2 separate regions of the Homo sapiens genome follow, and region 2 is linked to region 1. The links come from fine-mapping of genetic effects on gene expression. Tissue or cell type: whole blood. Region 1 holds a variant in brackets; the other region holds the start of a gene. All regions are shown on one strand. Distances are from middle to middle.

The links. PIP is the estimated chance that this variant, and not a neighbour inherited with it, causes the effect.
Region 2: MMP1 starts here. The variant in region 1 is fine-mapped to the expression of MMP1 in whole blood (INTERVAL, PIP 0.98).

The regions. Positions count from the first base shown.
Region 1 is chr11:102,823,824-102,831,934 of GRCh38, reverse strand. It overlaps the pseudogene WTAPP1. Among named protein-coding and RNA genes, the nearest start is that of MMP3, 16 kb to the left of the region's middle. The variant C/T (reference allele first, on the strand shown) is at 4,935.
Region 2 is chr11:102,794,692-102,802,802 of GRCh38, reverse strand. MMP1 (matrix metallopeptidase 1) reads left to right here and starts at 4,643. Exons shown (of 10, transcript NM_002421.4): 1 at 4,643-4,815; 2 at 5,303-5,547; 3 at 5,641-5,789; 4 at 6,014-6,139; 5 at 7,196-7,351; 6 at 7,512-7,629. The coding sequence starts at 4,711. It also overlaps the pseudogene WTAPP1.

The DNA of each region.
Region 1 (8,111 bases):
GGGTAGGACGCCTCGCATCTCCTGCCTCTTGTCTGCTAGTCGCATCGCAAGGACGTTTGCCCCGCGCAGACTCTTGCTGCTTTTGCTTTAGTTTTCACTGAGGTTGAGGTCAGCGTTCTTGCCTCCAAAGCTTGCGCATGTGTTTCATATTGTTTCCATTTTAGAATTCATTCATCTCCTGCCATCCGTTTGAAGTTTCGCTCAGTCTAACCCTTTGGGGAAGAGGGTTTTTTGTTGGTCATCTTGAATCCGAAGAGTCGCCTCCCAGATGCGGCCGTGGTCACCCACCGCCAGCCCCACCAGGGAGGAAAGGAAGGGGGCTGGTCGCCAGCAGAGCCCGATTCGTCGGACCTCGCTCTGGCTCTTCCCCGGAGTCTGGCGCCCCTCCGCGGCCACGGGACTCTGCGAGCTCCTGTTTATTGCACCAGCTGCGCTCAAAGGAAGAAATACGCAGCTTATTCAGTCCCCTATTGGTGATTCAATAAATACATTTATACATTAAATAAATGCAAAAACCAACTAAATAAAATGTTAAAGTAACAAAAAATAAAATTAGTTTGAAATAAGTGTAAATATTAAAAGAAAATAATTTTATAACATTTGAATATATTTATATAATATTTAAAATTAAAATATATTTAAGATAAAAATAATAAAACATAAATGAAATAAAATTGTGTGCATCAGTAGATTATTTTCAGTATTCAGTGTATCAGTAGCCTATTTTTTAATATTTTGCTGTGATATCCAACGCTACAGTGAATATCCTTAAGCACACTTGCATATTGGATGGAAAATCTAATCTTCAAAGGCTGAGCAGAGATACAGGAGCAGGAAAACTATTTGTTGGATTCTCCAACATGAGGGCCACTGATGCTCTTTACAACAGCAGCGTTGGTGAAGTGATGGAGCTGAATTCTGATTGAAGCTGGTAGAAAAGTTGGCAAGTTAGGGTGTTTTTGGCTATAGGTAGCAGAAAATCTCAACTGATTTAAAAATAAGGAATTTTCTGGTTCATATTACATAAAAGTACAGCACTAAGACAGGTTTTAGTTTCGGTGCGATCAGAGTTCTGGCTCCATCACTTTGCGGTTATCTTGGTTCTGTCCTTGTGTCAGTTTTACCTTGAGGCTGGCTTTCCTCACGGCAGCAACACAGCTATGTTGTTTAGTGTCCAGGCAACGCACCTTCTTAAATCACCACCTTCAAACACGAAAGGACAGTTCTGAGTGTCCTCCTGTTTGGACCATCCCTTACCATATGGTCATCCTAGACCAATCACCATGGCAGGGAGGATCAATCAATTTCACTGCAGTCATGTTTTTGTTACACAGTGAGGTGAAGGAAAGACATTGAGTCACCAATCTCTGTCCATCTACTACAAAGAGAAACTGGAATGTGAGAAAGTCGAAATAACAGATGCAAATAATTCTTAGGAAATGTTGTGCTGAGAAGGAAGTGGAAAATACTTTCTCTGTGCTATCAGACCTGATTCATAGTTCTTATGCATGTCTTAACTGTTAGGCTGGTAGTTGATTTCAATAATGCAGAAATATAAGTTTAGAGTAATTCAGTAGCATTGCCATAATCACATAGCAAGTACATAGCCAGGATCCAATTTCATATCCTTCTAGATTCAAAGATCATGTTCTTATTTTGTCTAGGGACCCAGACAATAAATCAGCCTGGTTGCCTTATCTTTTCAGTTTTGACTCCATTCCGAACTAGGGGTTCTGCAGTGTCATATGGCATGACCACATTGGGGCTGGTTCTTCCTCAATTCTGCAGTTTAAAATCCCCACAGCCCAAGGGCCGGGGTTCTTTTGAGTCTGATATCTAGCCCTGCTAAATTTCTTTGTGCTGTCCTAAATTGTAATGAACAATGGAGAACCTCACACCAGCTACTCGTCTGTAAATTTCCCCAAGCAATCTTGTTCCAGAAATGTTTGTTTGTTCCAGGTATGTATTTTTGTGCTGACAAGGCTTTCACCTGAATTTGACACCGACCAGAGGCTAAGCCCCAGGGACCAGACATGTAGCCCATGTCGGGACAAGACCAGCTCTAATGGTGACTGATGCTGAATCCCAGAATGATGTTTGATAGCTGGCTCAATTCCTCTTGCTTCAGGCAGGCTTATTGGAGTACGTTTGCATTTACAGGAAATCATGCAGTGACACTAGACTGGGGGAGGGACACTAGACTGGGGGAGGGACACTAGACTGGGGGGCAGGGGAGGAAAGCAGAAGCTGGGAATCTGGTTTGGACTCAGCAATAAACCAACAGAAATATGGGTTTGACACAAATAAGAACGTTCATAAACGATAAAGTACAGAATCTCACCAGTTAGTGAGCAGATGGGTTATAATGACAGAAGCATTTAAGAAGCCTATTATCACAAATCAAGCAATATGGAGATTAGCCGTGATCCTATTGTGAAGGAGCACTGTGGGAAGAGTGCATTGAAGCTACTCAGATCTGGCAGGAATAACTTGTGAAAGCAATTTTCTGTAAAATTGAAGAAGTTGGCAGGGTTTAATTATGAGAAAAAGTCCAGCTTGCTAACCACCTGGGATTTGGGTAGAATCATTCTGGAAGCAGCACAAACACCCTTTGCCTTGGTTTATAATCACTGATAATAATCTGTGTGTAAAACTTTAGTGGCTGTAGCGGACCTAAAATAGTAATTATCTTTTCTTTGGTTGGGAGCAAATTAGCTACTTCTGGAAGGAATATATGTATGTACATTATATATAATGTATATTATACATAATGTATGTAATGTATATTATACATAATGTATGTAATGTATATTATACATAATATATTATATTCTACAATGTAATCTAATATAATATATGAAACTCTATTACATTATGCATAATATACATTATATTATGTATGTATATTATATATACATGTATATATACGTGTATAAAAACGTGTATATACATATATACGTGTATATACATATATACGTGTATAAAAACGTGTATATACATATATACGTGTATAAAAACGTGTATATACATATATACGTGTATAAAAACGTGTATATATACATATATACGTGTATAAAAACGTGTATATATACATATATATGTGTATAAAAATGTATATATACATATATATGTGTATAAAAATGTATATATACATATATACGTGTATAAATGTATATATACTTGTATAAATGTATATTATGCATAATGTACATAATGTATATTATGCATAATGTACATGTTTATTATACACAATGTATATTGTATATAATGTATATATACTATATAACATTTATGTGTATTACATATTTATACAATGTAGATCATATATAATGTATGTTATGTATAATATATATTTAATAGAGAATGAATACAAGTGAGACTTTTGTTTAAGGAATGTTATTATGCTGTGTTATGTTTTGCAGTCACTGCTATTTTGAATATTTTCTGTTTTTAAGTTGTTTGCAAAGTGTATGAGAATTTGAGTTAAGTGAGTCAATTGATTGATTTATTAGATTACTAAGCATTACTTAAGTGTTTAGAAATATCTGGCTTGTTGGGTTTTAAGTCTGCATAATAGACTTGCATTATCTGAAAAAATTACCTACATTGAAATTGTAATTATGATTTGAAGTGTTGATGAAAATATTACTTATGAATTCAAATAGCATTAAATGATTAAGGTTAATTTATTATTTTTACTGTACAAATCAATAAATATTAATCAAAGCTAGTGAAAATGATTGTACTTATTTTTATATAAATATACTAGATTAATAAACAAGATTAGAAAGCTGAACTTAAAATATTAAGAAAACTTAGGATTTAACTCTTTAATAGATGGAGTATTATTATAATAAAAGTAAAACTCTAAGTATTAATAGGCATGCAAAAAAGGCCCCCTTAGACATTAGCAAATCCAATTGAAAGGCTAACGTATATTACTATTGCTATCTTAACACAGAAGGGAAACAAATACTTTGTATATACTATCTCATTTAATTCTCACCTATGAAGAAGATATTATTAAACTTTTTTACAAATATAGGGATGTATAGAGAGATTGCACAACATCCTCAAGGTCATACAGATAGTAAATGGCAGAGCCAGATATCTAATGCATCTAGTCTGACACCAAGCTTATGTTACATCCACTTTGCTGCCTCTCTATTCTTTAAGTTAACATGAATTAACCTATGATATGGTGTGGCTGTATCCCCACCCAAATCTTATCTTGAGTTGTTGCTCCCATAATCCACATGTATCATGGAAAGGACCTGTTGGGAGGTAACTGAATCAAGGGGGTGAGTTTTTCCTGTGTTGTTCACATGAGAGTGAGTAAGGCTCACAAGATCTGATGGTTTTATAAAGAGCAATTCCCTTATGCACGCTCTCTTGCCTGCCACCATGTAACATGTGCCTTTGCTCCTCCTTTGCCTTCTGCCATGATTGTGAGGCCTCCTCAGTCATGTGGAACTGTCAGTCTATCAAACTTCTTTCCTTTATAAATTACCCAGTCTTGGGTATGTCTTTATTAGCAGTGTGAGAACAGACTAATACAGTAAGTTGGTATCAGTAGAGTGGGGTGCTACTGTAAAGATACCCGAAAATGTGGAAGTGACTTTGGAACTGGGTAACAGGCTAGGTTGGAACAGTTTGGAGGGCTCAGAAGATATGAAAATGTGGAAAAGTTTGAAACTTCCTAGAGACTCAGAGGGCTTAGAAGACAGGAAGGTGTGGGAAATTTGGAACTTCCTAGAGACTTGTTGAATGGCTTTGACCAAAATGCTGGCAGTGATTTGGACAAAAAGGTCGATGCTGAGGTTGTCTCAGATAGAGATGAGGATCCTGTTGGGAACTGGAGGCCACTCTTTTATTTATTTTTCTGAGAAGGAGTCTAGCTCTGTCACCCAGGCTGGACTGCAGTGGCGCAATCT[C/T]GGCTCACTGCAAGCTCCACCTCCTGGGTTCACGCCATTCTCCTGCCTCAGCCTCCCAAGTAGCTGGGACTACAGGCACCTGCCACCGTGCCTAGCTAATTTTTTGTATTTTTAGTAGAGACAGGGTTTCACCTTGTTAGCCAAGATGGTCTCAATCTGACCTCATGATCTGCCCGCCTTGGCCTCCCAAAGTGCTGGGATTACAGGCATGAGCCACTGCACCTGGCCAGGTCACTCTTGCTATGCAAAGAGACTGGTGGCATTTTGCCCTTGCCCTACAGGTGTGTGGAATTTTGAACTTAGGAGAGATGATTTAGGGTATCTAGGGGAACAAATTTCTAAGTGGCTAAGCATTCAAGAGGTGATGGGATATAAAAGTTTTGAAAATTTGCAGCCTGACAATGAGATAGGAGAGAAAAACTTTTTTTCTGAGGAGAAATTCATACCTGTTGCAGAAACTTATATAAAACAAGGAGCCAAATGTTAATCACCAAGACAATGGGGAAAATGTCTCCAGGGCATGTCAGAGACCTTCATGGCAGCCCTTCCCATCACAGGCCCAGAGGCCTGGGAGGGAAAAATGGTTCTGCGGGCCAGGGCCAGGACCCCCCCTTTGCTGTGCACAGCCTTGGGACTTGGTGCCGTGCGTCCCAGCCACTCCAGCTGTAGCTAAAAAGGGCCAACATACAGCTCAGGCAATTGCTTCAGAGGGTGCAAGCCCCAAGCCTTGGAAACTTCCAAGTAGTGTTGGGCCTGTGGGTACAGAGAAGTCAAGAATTGAGATTTGGGAATCTCTGCCTAGATTTCAGAAGATGCATGGAAATGCCTGGATGTCCAGGCAAGAAGTTTGCTGCAGGGGTGGAGCCCTCATGGAGAAACTCTCTAGGGCAGTGTGGAAGTGAAATGTGGGGTTGGAGCACCCACAAAGAGTCCCCACTGGGACACTGCTTAGTGGAGCTGTGAGAAGAGGCCCACTGTCCTGCAGACCCCAGAATGGTAGATCCAATGACAGTTTGCACTGTGCACCTGGAAAAGCCACACTCAATGTCAGCCAGTGAAAGCAGCAAAAATGGGGGCCATACCCTGCAAAGCCACAGAGGCAGAGCTGCCCAAGGCTGTGGGAGCCCACCTCTTGCATCAGCATGACCTGGATGTGAGACATGGAGTTAAAGGAGATCATTTTGTAACTTTAAGGTTTAATGACTGCCCTGTTGGATTTTAGACTTTCCAGGGGACTGTAGCCCCTTTGTTTTGGCCAATTTTTCCCATTTGGAGCAGGTATATTTACCCAATGCCTGGTACCCACATTGTATCTAGGAAGTAACTAACTTGCTTTTGGCAGAAGGGACTTGCCTGTCTTAGATGAGACTTTGGACTGTGGACTTTTGAGTTAATGCTGAAATGAGTTCAGACTTTGGGGGACTGTTGGGAAGGCATGATTAGTTTTGAAATGTGAGGACATGAGATTTGGGAGGGGCCAGGGGTGGAATGATATGGTATGGCTGTGTCCCCACCCAAATCTCAACTTGAATTGTAGCTCCCATAATCCACATGTGTTGTGAGAGGGACTCACTGGGAGGTAACTGAATCATGGAGGTGAGTTTTTCCCATGCTATTCTCACGACAGTGCATAAGTCTCATGAGATCTGATGGTTTTATAAAGAGTACTTCCCTTACACATGCCCTCTTGCTTGCCACCATGTAAGACAAGCCTTTGCCCCTCCTTTGCCCTCTGCCATGATTGTAAATCCTCCTCAGCCATATGGAATTATGCGTCCATTAAAACTCTTTCCTTTATAAATTTCCCAGTCTTGGGTATGTCTTTATTAGCAGCATAAGAATGAACTAATACAGCCTATAAATGTGATTAAGAGCAAAAGAGATAGAGCAAAGAACAGACTGAGTGACATAATAGGGCAAGAGTTGGAATAAAGAAACAGCTGGAGTAGAGGAAGTGGTTGGCTCTTTGTAGCAGGTTGAGTCAAAGGGGTAAGTTTAGGTGACCTAGGAATGGATGTATAATACAGACATTCAGAAGTGGAAGGTTCATAATTTTGATAAGATCCTTTAAGTGACATTTTATATTATTTTTCTATTAATAAAATAAATCTTACGCCTGGTAATGAAATATCTCATGTGCACCCAAGGGCCTATTTCTAAGTAATGTAGCCATTTCATAATTCAAAAATAGCTGATAATTTCTCAATTAGGAAATGTCCATTACAAAATCACTGCAAAATCTGATGCCACAGGAGAAGCTTGAGTGACTCATAAAAGAGTACTGTGCAGGACATCTACACTCCTGGAACACATGTGGTATCTGAGACTACAAATGGATTCTTAAAGGCATGGAAATATTTTATGCATCTGCTGCAGAATACTGAACCAATATCCCTAACAAATTTATCTGAAAATGACAATTTAATCTTAAATTTTTCTGTGTGTGAACTTCCTTTGAATTTATTATCTCTCAAGTCCTAATGTGTTACCCTTTGACTGTCAGGTAGATGAAGTAGTCTTTTTCTCAATGTTCTGAGACCACATCAGTCTTGTGATTAATCAGATGCAAATTACATCCTTGTGAATGAGTGATCAACTTACAAAAAGAGTCATAACCATAAGACTATAGTTTGCAGAAATTTAGGTCAAAATCCTGCTCTGCTAAGAAAGGACAAAAATGCTTTCTACCTTTCGGGAGCTCACAATTGAGAATTATACCACTGATATGGAGATACATAAAGAGCAGACAGGGTAGGAGATATTAATTTGCTTTTTCATTCATTCATTCTTTCGACAATATTCACTAAGCACTCATTATATGCCAAGCACTTCTAAGAGCTTTGATAAATCAGTGTATTAGTTCATATTCATGCTGCTGATAAAGACATACCCAAGACTGGGCAATTTACAAAAGAAAGAGGTTTAATGGACTTACAGTTGCACATGGCTGAGGAGAACTCACAATCATGGCAGAAGCTTAGGAGGAGCAGTCATGTCTTATATGGATGGCAGCAGGCAAAGAGAGCTTGTGCAGGGAAACTCCCCTTTTTAAAACCATCAGATCTTGTGAGACTTATTCACTAGCATGAGAACAGCACAAGAAAGACCTGCCCCCATGATTCAATTACCTCCCACTGGGTCCCTCCCATAACATGTGGGAATTCAAGATGAGATTTG
Region 2 (8,111 bases), 29 kb after region 1:
GACTCTGCCTCAAAAAGTATAATAATAAAAAAATAAAGAAAGAATTATGGCTGAGGCATAAGTAGTTAAGAGTAATTAAAAAGAACTGGGTAGCAGGCTTAGAGAACATTTCACTTTGTGAAAAACAGAAAAATTCTGAAACAATGGAATATAGTTTGAATTCTGAATCATGGACTAAAAGCTCTGCAGGCCACACACGTGTGTATGTCACAGACTCCAAACAAGCAAGTCATAGTCTGGGCACATGATCAAAATCTCACAGGAAGCTTCCTCACATATTTCAAATCCATCTCAAATTCACATTCACAGATGTAAGAGCTGGGAAAGGACGGTTTTGACAGGGCTGAACTGAGCTATGGTATGAGTAGCACTCATCCCCAGAAAGTCTCTTGGTTTGAATTTCCTTTAAAAGGAGCTATAGCTGCAAAAATCTGTTTCACAAATGTGCTAACTATAAGCATTTTCCACAGTGTTTAATAAACCATGCAGATAAGAAAATATTATTGACAAACAAATTAATAAAATGCTCAAAATAATCTGATACTAAATGCTTGTAGCATGGCATGCAAATCACCAAAAATAAATGTGCTATGCTTCATATAAAATCTCCAGTAAGGCTGAGTGTGGTGGCTCACACCTATAATCCCAACACTCTGGGAGGCCGAGGTGAGAGAACTGCTTGAGGCCAGGAGTTTGAGACTAGCCTGGCCAACATAGTGAGACCTCATCTCTACAAAAAATCTTAAAAATCAGTGGGACATGGTGGTGCACATCTGTAGTTCTAGCTACTTGGGAGTCTGAGGCAGGAAGATTGCTTAAGCCCAAGAGTTTGAGGTCCCTACACTCCAGCCTAAGCGACAGAGGGAGACCTTGTCTCTAAATAAATAAATTAGTTAATTGAATGTCCAGTCAGTTGATATATCCAAATTCTTCCCATGGTAATTTTAAAAACTTTAGTCTTAGGAGAGTAAAAGTCATGGGCATAAGACTTCTTATAAACAACTCAGCCTAATGAGAAATAGACCCTTTATTTAAGTGTCATTTAAGTATCTATTTCTTCATTGATCTATTCATTTATTAACTCATGTAACAATCATTTGCAGACACCTACTATGTTGAGGTAGTATAAACTATAAATTCAACAAGTTTGATAAGGGAAATAAGAGAGATTGAGTGACAGCTTGAAGGGGAGGATTCTTTCAGGCCTGTGGGACCGGGTGGTGGCATGGAGACATTATTGTGGACTTGAGGGAGTTAATGTGACAGTCCTCGTGTCTCCAGACACTTTCTCTCTGTTAGGGAAGCAAGATTTCTATCCCCAGAGTATGTATGTGTTATGTCTGGACTGCAGTGGCACAGAACTGTGTTCAACGAGTGACTACCGCTCTGCTGTGTGCCCTGGGACTTGGGGTTAATTGATCAATCATTTCTACCCAGAAGGTAACCATGAGGACTGACGGAACCAGTGTGTACCAAGTGTCTGTTAAGTGTCTGGTCAATGGTTATCCATAAAGCTACTGCATGGCCATATGTAGGAAGAATACAGACCGTGGGGCAAATTTTTCCCACGTGTAACTCTCACAACAAAATAGCATTAAATACTTAATGTTTCTGGCTAAAGACCATTTCAAGACTTGCAGGACAAAAAAATAGAAAAAATATCTGACACTCAAATGGAGTTACAAAATTAAAACGGCTGAATTCCCCAGCATAAAAAAATATGAAGCAAGATTGAAATTTCAAGACTAAGTTTAATATGGAAAAATACAAATATGTTTGAGGCCTTTCACAGAGCAGCCAGCATGAAGCAACCAAGAAAACCACGGAAATAATCTGGCTGCCTGGAAATAGTCCGGAGTCAGCTGACACAGCCACACGAGAGCCCTCTTATGCTTGTCATAAGGGGTAAAGGAATAATTTCAGAAAATTACATTTAAAAGAGAATTATGGGGGAAGAAGATGCTCCCAGAGGAAACAAATAGTATGGATGTGAAGAGCAAATACAACTTTAACATGTTCTGAACTTCTTGGAAACTATGCTAAGTTTAGGCATTGCTAGGATTTGGTATGATTTAATCCCCAGCTTTCTGTTCTAAATTTTTGTTTTCTTTTTTACTCTCAAATAAATCATATGCTAGCACCAGCTGCAAAGTTACATATGTTGTATTAGACGATCTTCCATGAATACCTAACTGGAAATTCCAAGATTCAGGGCCATGTGAATCTAGGCTGGCTGCTTAACCAAAACTTAATTTAATTTTTTTCGTTTATTTTAGGAAAAAAAATTAACGAAAAGATGTTTCAAGCAACCAGTTTCCAATCCACGTCAGCAACTATGACATTTAATGAAACACTATGAGCATTTAGCATGAGAGCTCTGGACTCAGATGCAGGGAGCTTTGCTAGAGAAGGGAGGAAAAAGCAGGCATGATGTGGCGGGTTGTGGGGGACTCCAAGGCTCTATTTCCAACTTCCATCAGAGAACTTCTGTTTTCACCTGGTTTTCAAATTTGCTTTCCAAAAGGGATTTTGTTTAAGTAAAGGATACAGAGGTTTATAAAAGTTTGAAAACTTCTACATTGCAGGATGTGCAGGCTCTTGCCAGATGGGACAGTGTATGAGACTCTTCCAGGGTGACGTCTTAGGCAATTTCCTGTCCAATCACAGATGGTCACATGCTGCTTTCCTGAGTTAACCTATTAACTCACCCTTGTTTCCCAGGCCTCAGTGGAGCTAGGCTTGTCACGTCTTCACAGTGACTAGATTCCCTCACAGTCGAGTATATCTGCCACTCCTTGACTTTTAAAACATAGTCTATGTTCACCCTCTAATATGAAGAGCCCCTTTCACTATTTTCTTTGTCTGTGCTGGAGTCACTTCAGTGGCAAGTGTTCTTTGGTCTCTGCCGCACCCTCCCTCTGATGCCTCTGAGAAGAGGATTTCCTTTTCGTGAGAATGTCTTCCCATTCTTCTTACCCTCTTGAACTCACATGTTATGCCACTTAGATGAGGAAATTGTAGTTAAATAATTAGAAAGGATATGACTTATCTCAAATCAATCCAAGATATACTGAAGTATTGTTTATGAGTAAGATATCAGTCTTGACGCAGAAAGAAAACAGGAATCCATAAGGGGAGGAAAGTGTTGAAAAGCAAACCTGATACAGTGGGAAAGGTGGGAGACACCATAAGGTGCTGAAGTGATAAAACAGGCCAGTGTTTCTCCACTGTATGTTTTCAATAAATGCTTCCAAGGAAGGAGAGTGGGGCATGAGTAGGGGAGCTACAGAGATAAACCAACTTTTCTTACCAGGAATGCTACAGATAGCACTGGTGACACCGGTCACCAGTACCCAAGACAATTTAATGTGGAACATAAGTACAGGAATACACATCTTTCATTACAGAGCCATGTATTTATTTTAATGGGCAGGAGATGCTAAATAAGATCTTTTGAATGGAGGAATGCATAAATATATGAATGAATGCATACATGAAAGAATAAATAAATGCTGCCTAGCACCAAGGAGCGAAGATAGACTCATATCAAGGGAAACAAGTATGATTAAAAATAAGACCCCAGAGTCACGCTCAGTCTCTTTCCAGCCTTTTCATCATCCGGTACATTCAGACAAGTTTCAGGGAAGGATCCTATTTGTCCCATGATAATGATGGGCAAGGGGTGGGGAGTTATCTCATACTCCGCCTGTGGATGAGGGGTCTTCTCAGGTAAGGCTCTTAAATCCTAGGCCTGAGTAAATTTTTTCAAATTTTATTTTAGACAGGGTCCCTCTCTGTTGCCTAGGCTGGAGTGCAGCGGCACAATCACAGCTCAATGCAGCCTCAACCTCCCAGGCCCAAGTGATCCTCCCACCTCAGCCTCTTCAGTGACTAGGACTACAGGTGCATGACTCCATGCTTGGCTAACTTTAAAAAATGTTTGTTTGTTTGTTTGTTTTTTACAGAGATGGGGTCTCACCATGTTGCCCAGGCTGATCTTGAACTCCTGGGCTCAAGTGATTCCCCTGCCTCGGCCTCCTGAAATTCTGGGATTATAGGCTTGAGCCACCATGCCTGGCTCTGAGTAAAGATTAAGGGAAGCCATGGTGCTATCGCAATAGGGTACCAGGCAGCTTAACAAAGGCAGAAGGGAACCTCAGAGAACCCCGAAGAGCCACCGTAAAGTGAGTGCTGGGGGAGCTGAACTTCAGTCAGTACAGGTGCCGAACAGCCATCAGGTGCGCAGTGTTAGTAATTCCACCCTCTGCCCTGGGAGCAAGGTGTGTGGAGAAACCTGTAGCACTTTATGACCATCAGAACCAGTCTTTTTCAAAAAGACCATGGAGTACTCTTTGACCTGTGTATATAACAAGAACCTTTCTCAAATAGGAAAGAAATGAATTGGAGAAAACCACTGTTTACATGGCAGAGTGTGTCTCCTTCGCACACATCTTGTTTGAAGTTAATCATGACATTGCAACACCAAGTGATTCCAAATAATCTGCTAGGAGTCACCATTTCTAATGATTGCCTAGTCTATTCATAGCTAATCAAGAGGATGTTATAAAGCATGAGTCAGACAGCCTCTGGCTTTCTGGAAGGGCAAGGACTCTATATATACAGAGGGAGCTTCCTAGCTGGGATATTGGAGCAGCAAGAGGCTGGGAAGCCATCACTTACCTTGCACTGAGAAAGAAGACAAAGGCCAGTATGCACAGCTTTCCTCCACTGCTGCTGCTGCTGTTCTGGGGTGTGGTGTCTCACAGCTTCCCAGCGACTCTAGAAACACAAGAGCAAGATGTGGACTTAGTCCAGGTAAATGCTGCATTGCATGTGACAATAATGTAAATTTTTAGTTTGTATTTTTCTGCAGTAATGTAATAGAGTTTTTTAAGGATAGGTTTCTTATAAAGAGATTTTTTTTTTTTTTGCTAGAAACAGCACCCTCCACCCAAAATGTATCTAGCCATGCATACGCTCTCTTTTTCCAGTTGGAGGTGAGAGTGAACTAAAGGAACAACATCCAAACTTGTCTCCACAAATTGTAGACTTGTAACAGTATGCAAATCTTGCTCTACAAAAATTGCTCTACTATGAAGTTCTTACTTCACAATAACTAATAGTAGGGACATTTCTACTCTGAAATTTCATTTCTCACCAAAAATAAGGATAAAAGCAACTGCGAAATCTAAACACAAGGTTTAAAAGCAGTTCTCTGTTTTGGCTAAAACTTAATGCCATCAATTTTTAGAATAATGAGAAAGATTTCCCATGCAGTGTTTCGATAATTTTCTTTTGTCAGAAATACCTGGAAAAATACTACAACCTGAAGAATGATGGGAGGCAAGTTGAAAAGCGGAGAAATAGTGGCCCAGTGGTTGAAAAATTGAAGCAAATGCAGGAATTCTTTGGGCTGAAAGTGACTGGGAAACCAGATGCTGAAACCCTGAAGGTGATGAAGCAGCCCAGATGTGGAGTGCCTGATGTGGCTCAGTTTGTCCTCACTGAGGGGAACCCTCGCTGGGAGCAAACACATCTGACCTACAGGTAGGCAGACTGAGGGCCAGAGTGAGAGAGCTATTTCCCATGACAGTGGTAAGAAGTCATGTCCAATGTGTCTCTATTTTGTTTCATTCTAAGGATTGAAAATTACACGCCAGATTTGCCAAGAGCAGATGTGGACCATGCCATTGAGAAAGCCTTCCAACTCTGGAGTAATGTCACACCTCTGACATTCACCAAGGTCTCTGAGGGTCAAGCAGACATCATGATATCTTTTGTCAGGGGAGGTAAGTTCTTCTTATAGCACCTTAACCTCACCTTGCCCCTAGATCTCGTAGCTTTGCAACTGGAATTGATTGTTTAAGATGAATGTTGATTTTATGGGCTCGAAGAGGGAAACTGCATCACAGTTGATGGAAGTCTGTTGGCCTCTTAACAAAGCTAATGCTTGCCCTTCTGGCTTAGCTTACATAAGAACCACAAGGAATCTTTGTTGAATTGTTTCTTTCAGATCATCGGGACAACTCTCCTTTTGATGGACCTGGAGGAAATCTTGCTCATGCTTTTCAACCAGGCCCAGGTATTGGAGGGGATGCTCATTTTGATGAAGATGAAAGGTGGACCAACAATTTCAGAGGTAAGCCAATCAAATTTGCCTCTCTCAATTCTCCCACCCCTTCATGTTTCATTGTAATATTGGTTGATTTAGTTGAAAGAATGCATTCATAGAAGTATATATTTTTCTATTACCACTCAGAAAATTAGTGATACACTTAGAAAAGTGAAAGAGCGGTCTTTTCTGCTAGCTAACAACATCTTAGCAGTGACAACTAGGCCACTCTAAAATTTTTATTAAGAAAATTGTTGAAAACTTTGATGTTTTAATTGTGGGCATCAACATTGAAACTTTTTCATTAGAAGAAAACAGTGAAATTTAACAGCGGTCATAAACTTATGTGGAAATTAAAGAAAAGGAAGGCTTTTTGTGTTTTCCAAAATTTCCAGCAGTCAACATTTATCAGTTTTGTAAATAAGAAAAATATTAAATATTAGGCTGGGCGCAGTGGCTCATGCCTGTAATCCCAGCACTTTGGGAGGCCAAGGCAGGCAGATCACAACGTCAGGAGTTTGACACCAGCCTGACCAATATGGTGAAACCCTGTCTCTTCTAAAAATATAAAAATTAGACAGGCATGGTGGCACACGTCTGTAATCTCAGCTACTCAGGAGGCTGAGGCAGGAGAACCGCCTGAACCCAGGAGGCAGAGGTTGCAGTGAGCCAAGATCATGCCACTGCCCTCCAGCCTGGGTGACAGAGCAAGACTCCGTCTCAAGAAAGAAAAAAAGAAAAAGAAAAATATTAAATGTTAATAGAACATTTTGCTTCTGTGTGAAATAGTACGTGTCATTTAATCATTGATAATATTGATTAATCTGTGGTGCGCTTTCAGTCAGCTGAGTTTGTCTTTTAATTGTATCAATGTAATCATAGAGTTTAGGTTTCAACATGTCTCTTCGTTATTAATAAATGCATGCCTTCTGCCTTCGGAAAAAAGATATACATGCATATATTTCAAAAGTCACTGATAAAATAGTAACATGAGTCCTTGTAGTTGTAAATTATTTATTAGTTAAATGCCTCAAAACTGAATACCTTTCAAATAATTACAAATTGATTTATTGGCCTTTTTAGAGTACAACTTACATCGTGTTGCAGCTCATGAACTCGGCCATTCTCTTGGACTCTCCCATTCTACTGATATCGGGGCTTTGATGTACCCTAGCTACACCTTCAGTGGTGATGTTCAGCTAGCTCAGGATGACATTGATGGCATCCAAGCCATATATGGTGAGTATGGGGAAAAACATTACGGACAAGGGCCTGGTGGTCTTTATATGTATTTCAAATAAAACAGCCATTAGCGATATCCTTGAAGAAGCTGTCTTCATTGTTTATGTAGTTTTCTAATACTAGGCAAAACTAACTCTAGGTATTTTATTTTCCTTAGGACGTTCCCAAAATCCTGTCCAGCCCATCGGCCCACAAACCCCAAAAGCGTGTGACAGTAAGCTAACCTTTGATGCTATAACTACGATTCGGGGAGAAGTGATGTTCTTTAAAGACAGGTAAGATGTCAGTTCTTCTTTGTGATCTGCATTTGTAATAATAACAACATTCACCACTATGATTAACTATTATGCTTCACATGTTACTTATTTCATGCTGATTTACATCTATAATCACATGGTAGCAACCACATGCATTTGTGCAACATAATGTACTTGTAACAACTTTGTTTTTCTACATGTATTAGGTCAACTGATTCTCAGAAAATATAGTTGATTTTGAAAATCAGTATGTATGATCTTTTTTTACAGATTAGCAAAGTAAGTCAGAGAGAAGGAAAGAGATCTTTTGGGGGCATAGAGCTCATTGGTAGCAGAGCAGTTATTGGTCTTCTGTTCCCTATTTCAGGTCTCTTTTCATTATGCCACTCTTTATGGTGATAAGTATCATTGGACTTTCTTAGGAGAAAGTGGTCCTTTCCATAGCAACATCTCACTGATGAGGGTTGCATAGCCATCCTTTAATTATCTCCCCTGCCATC